2 linked regions of the Homo sapiens genome follow. The protein of the gene in region 1 interacts with the protein of each later gene in a biochemical or structural test. Each region holds a gene or a part of one and is shown in the gene's direction. Other genes may lie near its edges.

Region 1 (5,088 bases):
GCAGTAGATTGCTTGCTAGTTTTCCTAAAAATGGTCAGGAATAGGACACAGATGTTCCTAATTCTAATAGCATGAGATGCCTTTTATTCTTGAATTACGTTATTCTTACAAAAACCACGATAAGTGAAATTCACCCAGTGCAGTACTTCTTTCTAGTTAAAACAAAATTGACAAAACTTCACGGTTTCAGTTCTTGTACATATATGTATGCAGGTCCCAGGGATCAGCCTCAGTCTTTGTGAGAACCATACCATAGAGGGCTATTTTGAGAACGAAATAAACAAAGCAGTGGGCATTTATTTAGTTCAGATGAGGAAAAGATTAAATTTATACCCATCTTTTAAGTAGATAGTGGCAGCAGTAAATAAATTTGTGGAATAATTTTTACATAAATCCTGCTATGATACTTTATTATGCCATATTAGCCAAGTATTGTGTAGCCATTAATAATTCAGTCCCCAAGAACCTTTTCTGTGGTTTTCATTGATTAAAATGGGGACTTACATAGCAAACCATTCAGCATTCTGAGTCAGTCACAATGTACCTCTGATAAAATGTTTCTTCTTGATTGATTAAAAAATTTTCCCCCAGAAAATGGCTGCTGTTTTACCAATTAAGGGAAATGAGTAGACCCGATTAACTATAGTTTATCAATACATTGTCATGGGGCAAAATAAATGATACATTTGGAGCTAGTGTAAGATTTGTATTTAACTGGGTACATAATAGCGTTGGCAGTTAAATAATGGGGTCCGATAAGGTCATTGGGAACTTCTTAAAAATTAATCAGCTGACTACAAGCCAGAAGCAAAATACATTTTTACTGAATTCTCTGTGTTACAAGTTGAAGCAGTGTGGGAAACCATGCCACTGGTGTTACTATTGGGGTTGCACTGGGTCTGTTTTTTGAGTGGCCAGTTTGAGTGACTTTATATTAGCATTTTAAATTAATGATGTGTGTGGGTTTTGTTTGTTCATTTTTTACTTTGAAGTAATTAGAGGCTTATAGTTTGTAAGCATTTCAAGCAGGTTTTTAAATAAATGCTTTAATTTTTTTTATAAGATAGGACCTTGGCTTTGTGGAGCATTATAGAGCTATATTTTGGAGTTGAAATTTGAGCTCCTTTTTGGTAACTGTGGAGTTACTGCTCAGGAAATGAACTGTGTTACATTTTTATTTTATGAGTTGGTAAATAGCAAAAGAATAAGTGTTTAGGGAGTACTTCTATAGAATTAATTTGCTTTGGTTTGTTTGATCAAGGAATTGCAGATATAAGACCTGTTGTGTTGATTTTCTTCATGTGGGGTTGGGTACTGCTGCTGCATTGTCTTTAGTGTTTCATTCCTCCTGTCTGTATCTTTTAAAAGAAAGAGCACTGACTCTCTTTTTGTGTCAGTTTATTCCTATTGATGTAACAGAAAAAACATGGTAGAATATTCAGGTTTTTTTGGAGAAGTGACTAGGCGATTCTTATATACATCATGCGTCATCAAGTCATGCTTAAATTAAAAAGAATATTAGTGACTTACTTCAAATATCAAACTAAGTAGTAAACTGTTAACTATAGTTAATATTTTGCTGTGGCATAGAATAGGAAGCTATGCTTGTGACCTGTAGGGATCTAGTTTAATTTGTAATATTGGCCAAAGTGTTTTTTTGAAACGGTCACTTGGATTGAAAGAAATAAGCTTCATCTTCCAGTGCATATGAACATTAGAAATTGCTTAATTTGACACTGAAGACCCCCCCTCTATCATTCACTTTATCTTTTCATTCTCTTCTTGATTACCAACTTTGTTCTAAATGTAACACATCGTATGGTTGCTTAACTGATGCCTGCCCTTTCTTCTCTTTTCCTGCTTTGTTAAGATATTTATTGAGCACCTGTCACAGACACTGGGGATACAGTAGTGAATAAAACAGACAGAGACCCTTACCTGGAGGATAATACTGCTGAGAAAAATAAAGCAAGGGGGTTTGGATATCAGAGTATGTGAAAGGGGGAACAGTTTTCAAATTGGGTGGTCCGGAAAGTTCTTGAGGAAGGTGACATTTGCGAAAAGATCTGAAGGAGGTGGGCATTAGGGCCATGTTGGTCTCCCATCTGTCTAAATCATAAAGTCATAATTAATATGGTAATAATTTGCATAGGTTTCTCTACCTTCCACCGTCGTTTCCCATGTCAGCTACTTAGATTGACCCTAAAATGCTAATAAAACTTTCTAGACTGTGGTACTTCTCAACCTTTAGGTTACATTTGACCATTTGCATGTGTGTGTCTCTTTTCTTCCTACTAGACCCCCTTGAGTTAGTGCTTTTTTTTTTTTTTTTTTTTAAATGTAGATGGAGTCTCACTCTTGTTGCCCGGGCTGGAGCGCAGTGGTGCAATCTCGGCTCACTGCAACCTCCACCTCCTGGGTTCAAGTGATTCTCCTGCCTCAGCCTCCTGAGTAGCTGGGATTACAGATGTCCACCACCACGCCCGGCTAATTTTTGTATTTTTAGTAGAGATGGGGTTTACCTTTGTTGGCCAGGCTGGTCTCGAACTCCTGACCTCAGGTTATCACCTGCCTCAGCCTCCCAAAGTGCTGGGATTACAGGCATGAACCACTGCGCCTGGCCTAAGTTAGTGCTTTTGATGTCACAAAAACTTGGGTGAGTTTGTTTCAGTAGAATTTTCTGAAAATACATGAGATCTTTTTACTGTAGTTTCTCAGAAGAGAATACTCAAAGCATTTGATACTGGATTTGTAGTGATTTTAATTTTCTTCTGTATCTTTTAATTTTTGATTTTAAAAATGGGATAAGAAGGGCAAATTACTGATTGGTTTAACTAGTTTATTCAGAGCTTTTCTTAAAATAATGACTTGAAAGGTGGATTTAATAGAGTACTTTTTAAAAAGATTGTTTTCTCATGCCTGAAAGCATTGAATGTTTTTACATAGCTTTATATCTGGATCAGAAGGGAACGAGTTCTAATTCATGCTTTTTTTTCCGTTTTATTAATGACTGAAAGTCCTCCCCCAGAAATTATCGTAACGTTTATTGGTAATTCTCTGTATCATTCTCGAAATGTTTAATTTCCATTTCCTCTTTATTTAAAAAAAAAAAAAAACTTGATGTAAATTTCTTCATTTATTGAGCAATTGTTTGAGGGCCCAAAGGCACAGTGCAAGTTTCTGAGAATACTAGGAGCAAAATGTGCTTATGATCTTTTTAAGCACTTTTTTCTTTCGTTTTCTTTTTATGATACTAAGAGCTCTTCCTATTATCACAGTGTATAGATATCTGAGTCACAATATCATGACTGTCTCCCAGTTTACAGCAGAACGTGCTTTTTACCTTGGATTAAAATTTGCTTTATTTGGCCGGGTGCAGTGAGTGGCTCATGCCTGTAATCCCAGCACTTTGAGAGGCCGAGGTGGGTGGATCATTTGAGGTCAGGAGTTCGAGACCAGCCTGGCCAACATGGTGAAACCCCACCTGTACTAAAAATACAAAAATTAGCCAGGCGTGGTGGTGGGTCCCTGTAATCCCAGCTACTCAGGAGGCTGAGGCAGGAGAATCGCTTGAACCCGGGAGGCGGATGTTGCAGTGAGCCGAGATTGCGCCACTGCACTCCAGCCTGAGTGACAAAGTGAGACTCCGTCTCAAAAAAAAATTTTTTTTTTGCTTTAGTATACTTATCAGAAGTATAATGCAGTACAGAGTGTTGTACAGTATTTCAGTGCTGTACAGAGATTAATCTTGTGGATAATAATTGGGAGATACTCTATCCCTACTCTATTTTTAACAGTTTAATGTAGTTGAGTGTTCATTAGCAAGTGGTTACTTTGAATAATACTGGCACATTTGAAGCATTGAACTTGTTTGATAATGTATGTCCCAGAAGACAGGTATTATTGTATTTAGCACAAAGCAAAGGGAAGAAGAAACACTGTTTATGTCCAAAACTATGGGGCAGTGGTCTTCTCTTTTACTTTTCTTTGCTGCTGTTCATGAAGCTTGTTACCTTTTCGCTGTCTTTTTTTTGAGACGGAGTCCTGCTCTGTCGCCCAGATTGGAGTGCAGTGGTGCGATCTTGGCTCACTGCAACCTCCACCTCCCAGCTTCAAGTGATTCTCCTGCCTCAGCCTCCCGAGTAGCTGGGATTACAGGCATGCACCACCACGCCCGGGTAATTTTTTGTATTTTTAGTAGAGACGGGGTTTCTCCATGTTGACCAGGCTGGTCTCCAGCTCCTGGCCTTAGGTGATCCGCCTGCCTCAGCTTCCCAAAGTGCTGGGATTACAGACATGAGCCACCTCACCCAGCCCAGATAATCCTTTTACACACTGTTTAAAATTTTCAATTTTCCTGGAGATAGGGTCTCCTGTCGCCCAGCGGGTAAATGCAGTGGTGCGATTATAGCTCACTGCAGCCTCAGACACCTGGGCTGAAGCCTGATTCTTGAGCCTCCCAAGTAGCTGGGACTATAGGTGTGAGCCATCATGCTTTGCCCTTTTTTTTTTTTTTTTTTTTTTTTGAGGCAGAGTCTCACTCTGTCACCTAGGCTGGAATGTAGTAGTGGCACGATCATAGCTCATTATAACCTCAAACTCCTGGTTTCAAGCAATCTTCCCGAGTAGTCAGGACTACAGGCATGCCCTGCCATGCCCAACTAATTAAAAAAAAATTTTTTTTTATACACATAGGGTCTCACTATGTTACTCAAGCTAGTCTCCAATTCCTGGCCTTAAGAGATTTTCCCAAAGCATTAGGATTATAGGCATGAGCCACCTCACCCAGCTGAAACAGATAATTCTTTTTTTTTTTTTCCTTGAGATGGAGTTTTGCTCTTGTCAGCCAGGCTGGAGTGCAATGGCGCGATCTCGGCTCGCTGTAACCTCTGCCTCCCGGGGTCAAGCGATTCTCCTGTCTCAGCTTCCCCAGTAGCTGGGATTACAGGCGTCCACCACCACACTCGGCTAATTTTTTGTATTTTAGTAGAGATGGGTTTTCGCCATGTTGGTCAGGCTGGTCTTGAACTCCTGACCTCAGGTGATCTGCCCACCTCAGCCTCCCAAAGTGCTGTGATTACAGGTGTG
Region 2 (4,352 bases), on another chromosome or scaffold:
ATGCATGTGCAAGTGTCTTTTTCATATAATGACTCTTGGATCAAATGGTAAATCTACTTTTAGTTTTTTAAGGAATCTCCATACTGTTTTCCATAGTGGTTGTACTAGTTTACATTCCCACCAGCAGTGTAAAAGTGTTCCTTTTCACCATATCCACACCAACACATATTTTTTTTTTATTTTTAAATTATGACCATTCTTTTTTTTTTTTTTTTTTTTTGACAGAGTCTTGTTCTGTCACCCAGGATGGAGTGCAGTGGCACAACCTCCACCTTCCGTGTTCAAGCCATTCTCCTGGCTCAGCCTCTTGAGTAGCTGGGATTACGGGCATGCACCACCATGCCTGGCTAATTTTTGTATTTTAGTAGAGACGGAGTTTCACCATGTTGGTCAGGCTGGTCTCGAACTCCTGACCTTGTGATCTGCCCACCTCAGCTTCCCAAAGTGCTGGGATTACAGGCATGTGCTATCGCGCCCAGCCATTATGGTGAATTCTTGTAGGAGTAAGGTGATATTGCATTGTAATTTTGATTTGCATTTCCCTGATAATTAGTGATGTTGCACATTTTTCCCTATGCTCGGCCATTTGTATACCTTCTTTTGAGAATTGTCTATTCATGTCCTTAGCCAACTTCTTGGTGGGATTGTTTGTTTTTTTCTTGCTGATTTGTTTGAGCTCCTTGTAGATTCTGGATATTAGTCCTTTGTTGGATGCATAGTTTGCAAAGATTTTCTCCCACTCTGTGGGTTGTCTGTTTACTCTGTTGACTGTACCTTTTGCTGTGCAAAAGCTCTTTAGTTTAATTAAGTCCCAACTATTTATCTTTATTTTTATTGCTTTTGCTTTTGGGTTCCTGGTCATGAAATCCTTGTGTAAGCCAATGTCTAGTAGGGGTTTTCCAATGTTATCTTTTAGAACTTTTATGGTTTCAGGTCTTAGATTTAAGTCCTTAATCCCTCTTGAGTTAATTTTTGTGCAATGTGAGAGATGAGGATCCAGTTTCATTCTCCTACATGGGGCTAGCCAGTTGTCCCAACACCATTTGTTGAAAAGGGTGTCCTTTCCCCACTTTATGTTTTTGTTTGCTCTGTCGAAGATCAGTTGGTTGTAAGTATTTGGGTTTATTTTTGGGTTCTCTATTCTGTTCCATTGGCCTATGTACCTATTTTTATACCAGTACCATGCCTCGTAGTATAGTTTGAAATCTGATAATGTGATGCCTCCAGATTTGTTCTTTTGCTTAGGATTGCTTTTGCTATGCGGGCTCTTTTTTGGTTCCATATAAATTTTAGGATTTTTTTTTCTAGTTCTGTGAAAAATGATGATGGCATTTTGATGGGAATAGCGTTGAATTTGCAGATCGCTTTTAGCAGTATGGTCATTTTCACAATATTGATTGCACACACCCATGAGCATAGGCTGTGTTTTCATTTGTTTGTGTCATCTGTGATTTCTTTCAGCAGTGTTTTGTAGTTTTCCTTGTAGAGGTCTTTCACCTCCTTGGTGTTTTATTTTTTTTGCAGCTATTGTAAGAAGGGTGAAGTTCTTGATTTGATTCTCAGCATGGTCACTGTTGGTGTATAGCAGTGCTACTGATTTGTGTACATTGATTTTGTATCCTGAAACTTTAATGAATTCATCTATCAGATCTAGGAGCTTTTTGGATGAGTCTTCAGCATTTTCTAAGTATATGATCATATCATCTGTGAACAGTGACAATTCGACTTCCTCTTTACCAGTTTGGATGCCCTTTATTTATTTCTCTTGTCTGATTACTCTGGCTCTTTTAGTTATTTTTAAAAGTACAATTAAGTTATTATTGACGGTAGTCACCCTATTGCGTTATCAAATAGTAGGTCTTATTCATTCTTTCTACTTAGTTTGCTCTTGTTTTTCTGGTTTCTTAAGGTAGAAGTGGAAGTTTATGGTAATTCATATGAAATCTTTCCTCTTTTTTAACGTAGGCACTTTCAGCTACAGATTTCCCCTTTAAGAACTATTTTAGGCCGGGCGCGGTGGCTCACGCCTATAATCCCAGCACTCTGGGAGGCTGAGGTAGGCAGATTACTTGAGGTCAGGAGTTCGAGACCAGCCTGACCAACATGGTGAAACCCCATCTCTACTAAACATACAAAATTAACCAGACATGGTGGCACATGCTTATAATCCCAGCTACTTGGGAGGCTGAGGCAGGAGAATCGCTTGAACCCGGGAGGTGGAGGTTGCAGTGAGCTGAGTTCGTGCCATTGCACTCCACCCTGGGCAATAAGAGCAAAACTCCATCTCAAAAAATAAATTAATAAAAAATTTAAAAAAACGACTTTAGCTAGATCCCATAAATTTTGGTATGTGGTATTTTCATTTTTATTCATCTCAAAGTATTTTCTAATTTCTCTTGTGATTTTTTTCCTTGACAGCCTGGTTATTTAAGAGTGTTTTGGCTGGGCACGGTTGCTCATGCCTGTAATCCCAGCATTTTGGGAGGCTGAGGCAGGCAGATCACTTGAGGCCAGGATTTTGAGACCAGCCTGGCCAACATGGTGAAACCTCATGTCTACCAAAAATACAAAAATTAGCTGGGCGTGGTGGCAGGTGTCTGTAATCCCAGCTACTTGGGAGGCTGAGGCGGGAGGATCACTTCAGCCCAGGAGGTGAAGGTTGCAGTGAGCCAAGATTGCACCACTACACTCCAACCTAGGTGACAGAGCAAGACCCTGTATCAAAAAAAAAAAAAAGTGTTTTGTTTGATTTCTACTTGTGAATTTCCCAGACTCCCTTCTGTTACTGATTTCTAATTTAATTATGTTGTGCTCAGAAAATATATTTTGTATGATTTTATTCCTTTTAAATCTAGTAAGGCTTATTTTATATCCTAACATACGGTTTATTCACAACAGTGTTCCATATGCACTTAAGAATAATGTATATTCTGCTGCTGTTAAGTAGATGGTTCTATAGATTTCGGTTAGGTCTAGTTTGATTTATAGTATTGTTCAGGTCCTCTGTTTCCTTGTTGATATTCTGCTTAGTTGTTTTATCCATTATTGAAAGTGGAGTATTGGCCGGGTGCGGTGGGTCACGCCTGTAATCCCTGCATTTGGGAGGCCAGGGCAGGTGGATCACTTGAGGTCAGGAGTTTGAGACCAGCCTGGCCAACATGGTGAAACCCCGCCTCTACCAAAAACACAAAAAATTAGTCGGGCGTGGTGGCAGGCGCCTGTAATCCTGGCTACTCGGGAGGCTGAGGCAGGAGAATCACTTGAACCCAGGAGGCAGAGGCTGCAGTGAGCCGAGGTCGCACCACTGGACTCTAGCCCAGGCAACGGAGTGAGACTCCGTCTCAAAAAAAAAAAAAAAGAAAAGAAAAGAAAAGAAAGAAAGTAGAGTATTGAAGTCTCCTACTACTGTTGTTGAATTGTGTATTTTTCCCTTCAATTCTGTCAGTTTTTTCTTCCTGTATTTGGGAGTTTTGTTGTTAGGTGCCAGTGCTGTACTTTTGTCATAGATGTAATCTCTAGTGAAAGGCAACACTGGCATATTGACTCTGTCAAACTGGAGTTTGAGTGGCATTTTGAAGGCTTGTTTTCCAGCATCTTGACCACCATGATGAGTTATAAGGGTAATGGCTAAAAACATGGGTTTTGAAGTCTTTCAGACCTAGGCGGAAATCCAGTCTACCACTTGGTCTATGTAACCTTAGGTGAGTCAGTTTCTTTATCCTTAAAATGTGAATAATGATAATAACTACCTCATTGGGTTGTTATGAAGAATAAGTAGGATCATGTATATTAGGACCTTAGCCTAAGTTAGTGCTTGTTTGTTATCTGTCTGTCTGCTGTCCGAGTATATTCTCACAGATAAAATGGGGAAGAGCTCCAAAAACAGTGAGAGAAGGTATTCACAGATAAAGCATTTGCTATAGATAATTCTCAGATGCACACACCTACCATCATTAAGAGCGGTTGACGAGAGCATTTGCCATATGTATGTGTAGCAGGTAGGGCTGGCCCTGCATGAATGCAGAAAAGAATAAAATTTGAAGAATTATAAGAATGCTTCCCCTGCCCTCCTCCCACATATGCACATCCCAGCATATCTCCCATATACTTTACACATTCAGACCCCGGAATTCTAATATAGAGCCTTATTCTTTTAGGATCCCTCCATCAACAGGCCTCTTTGAAATGCAAACTCTTCGGCATTATATGTAGCCTGTTTAACAGGTTCTGACTAAAGCATTAGTAACTTGTCAGATTTATTTCCTTCTGCTAGAAGAGATTCAAGATAACAAGAACAACAGAGCACTGGTGGAAAAGCTCTGAAAAGGGGTGGGGACAGGGGTAGGAACAGT

The links. The genes of interacting proteins can lie anywhere in the genome.
Region 2: the proteins of ATP2A2 (region 1) and FRMPD3 interact in a test that uses a peptide from one of them, tested with the Homo sapiens proteins (one large-scale study listed by IntAct).

Annotation. Positions count from the first base shown.
Region 1 is NC_000012.12:110,283,600-110,288,687, forward strand, and holds part of ATP2A2 (sarcoplasmic/endoplasmic reticulum calcium ATPase 2), read left to right. Parts: intron 1-5,088.
Region 2 is NC_000023.11:107,592,595-107,596,946, forward strand, and holds part of FRMPD3 (FERM and PDZ domain-containing protein 3), read left to right. Parts: intron 1-4,352.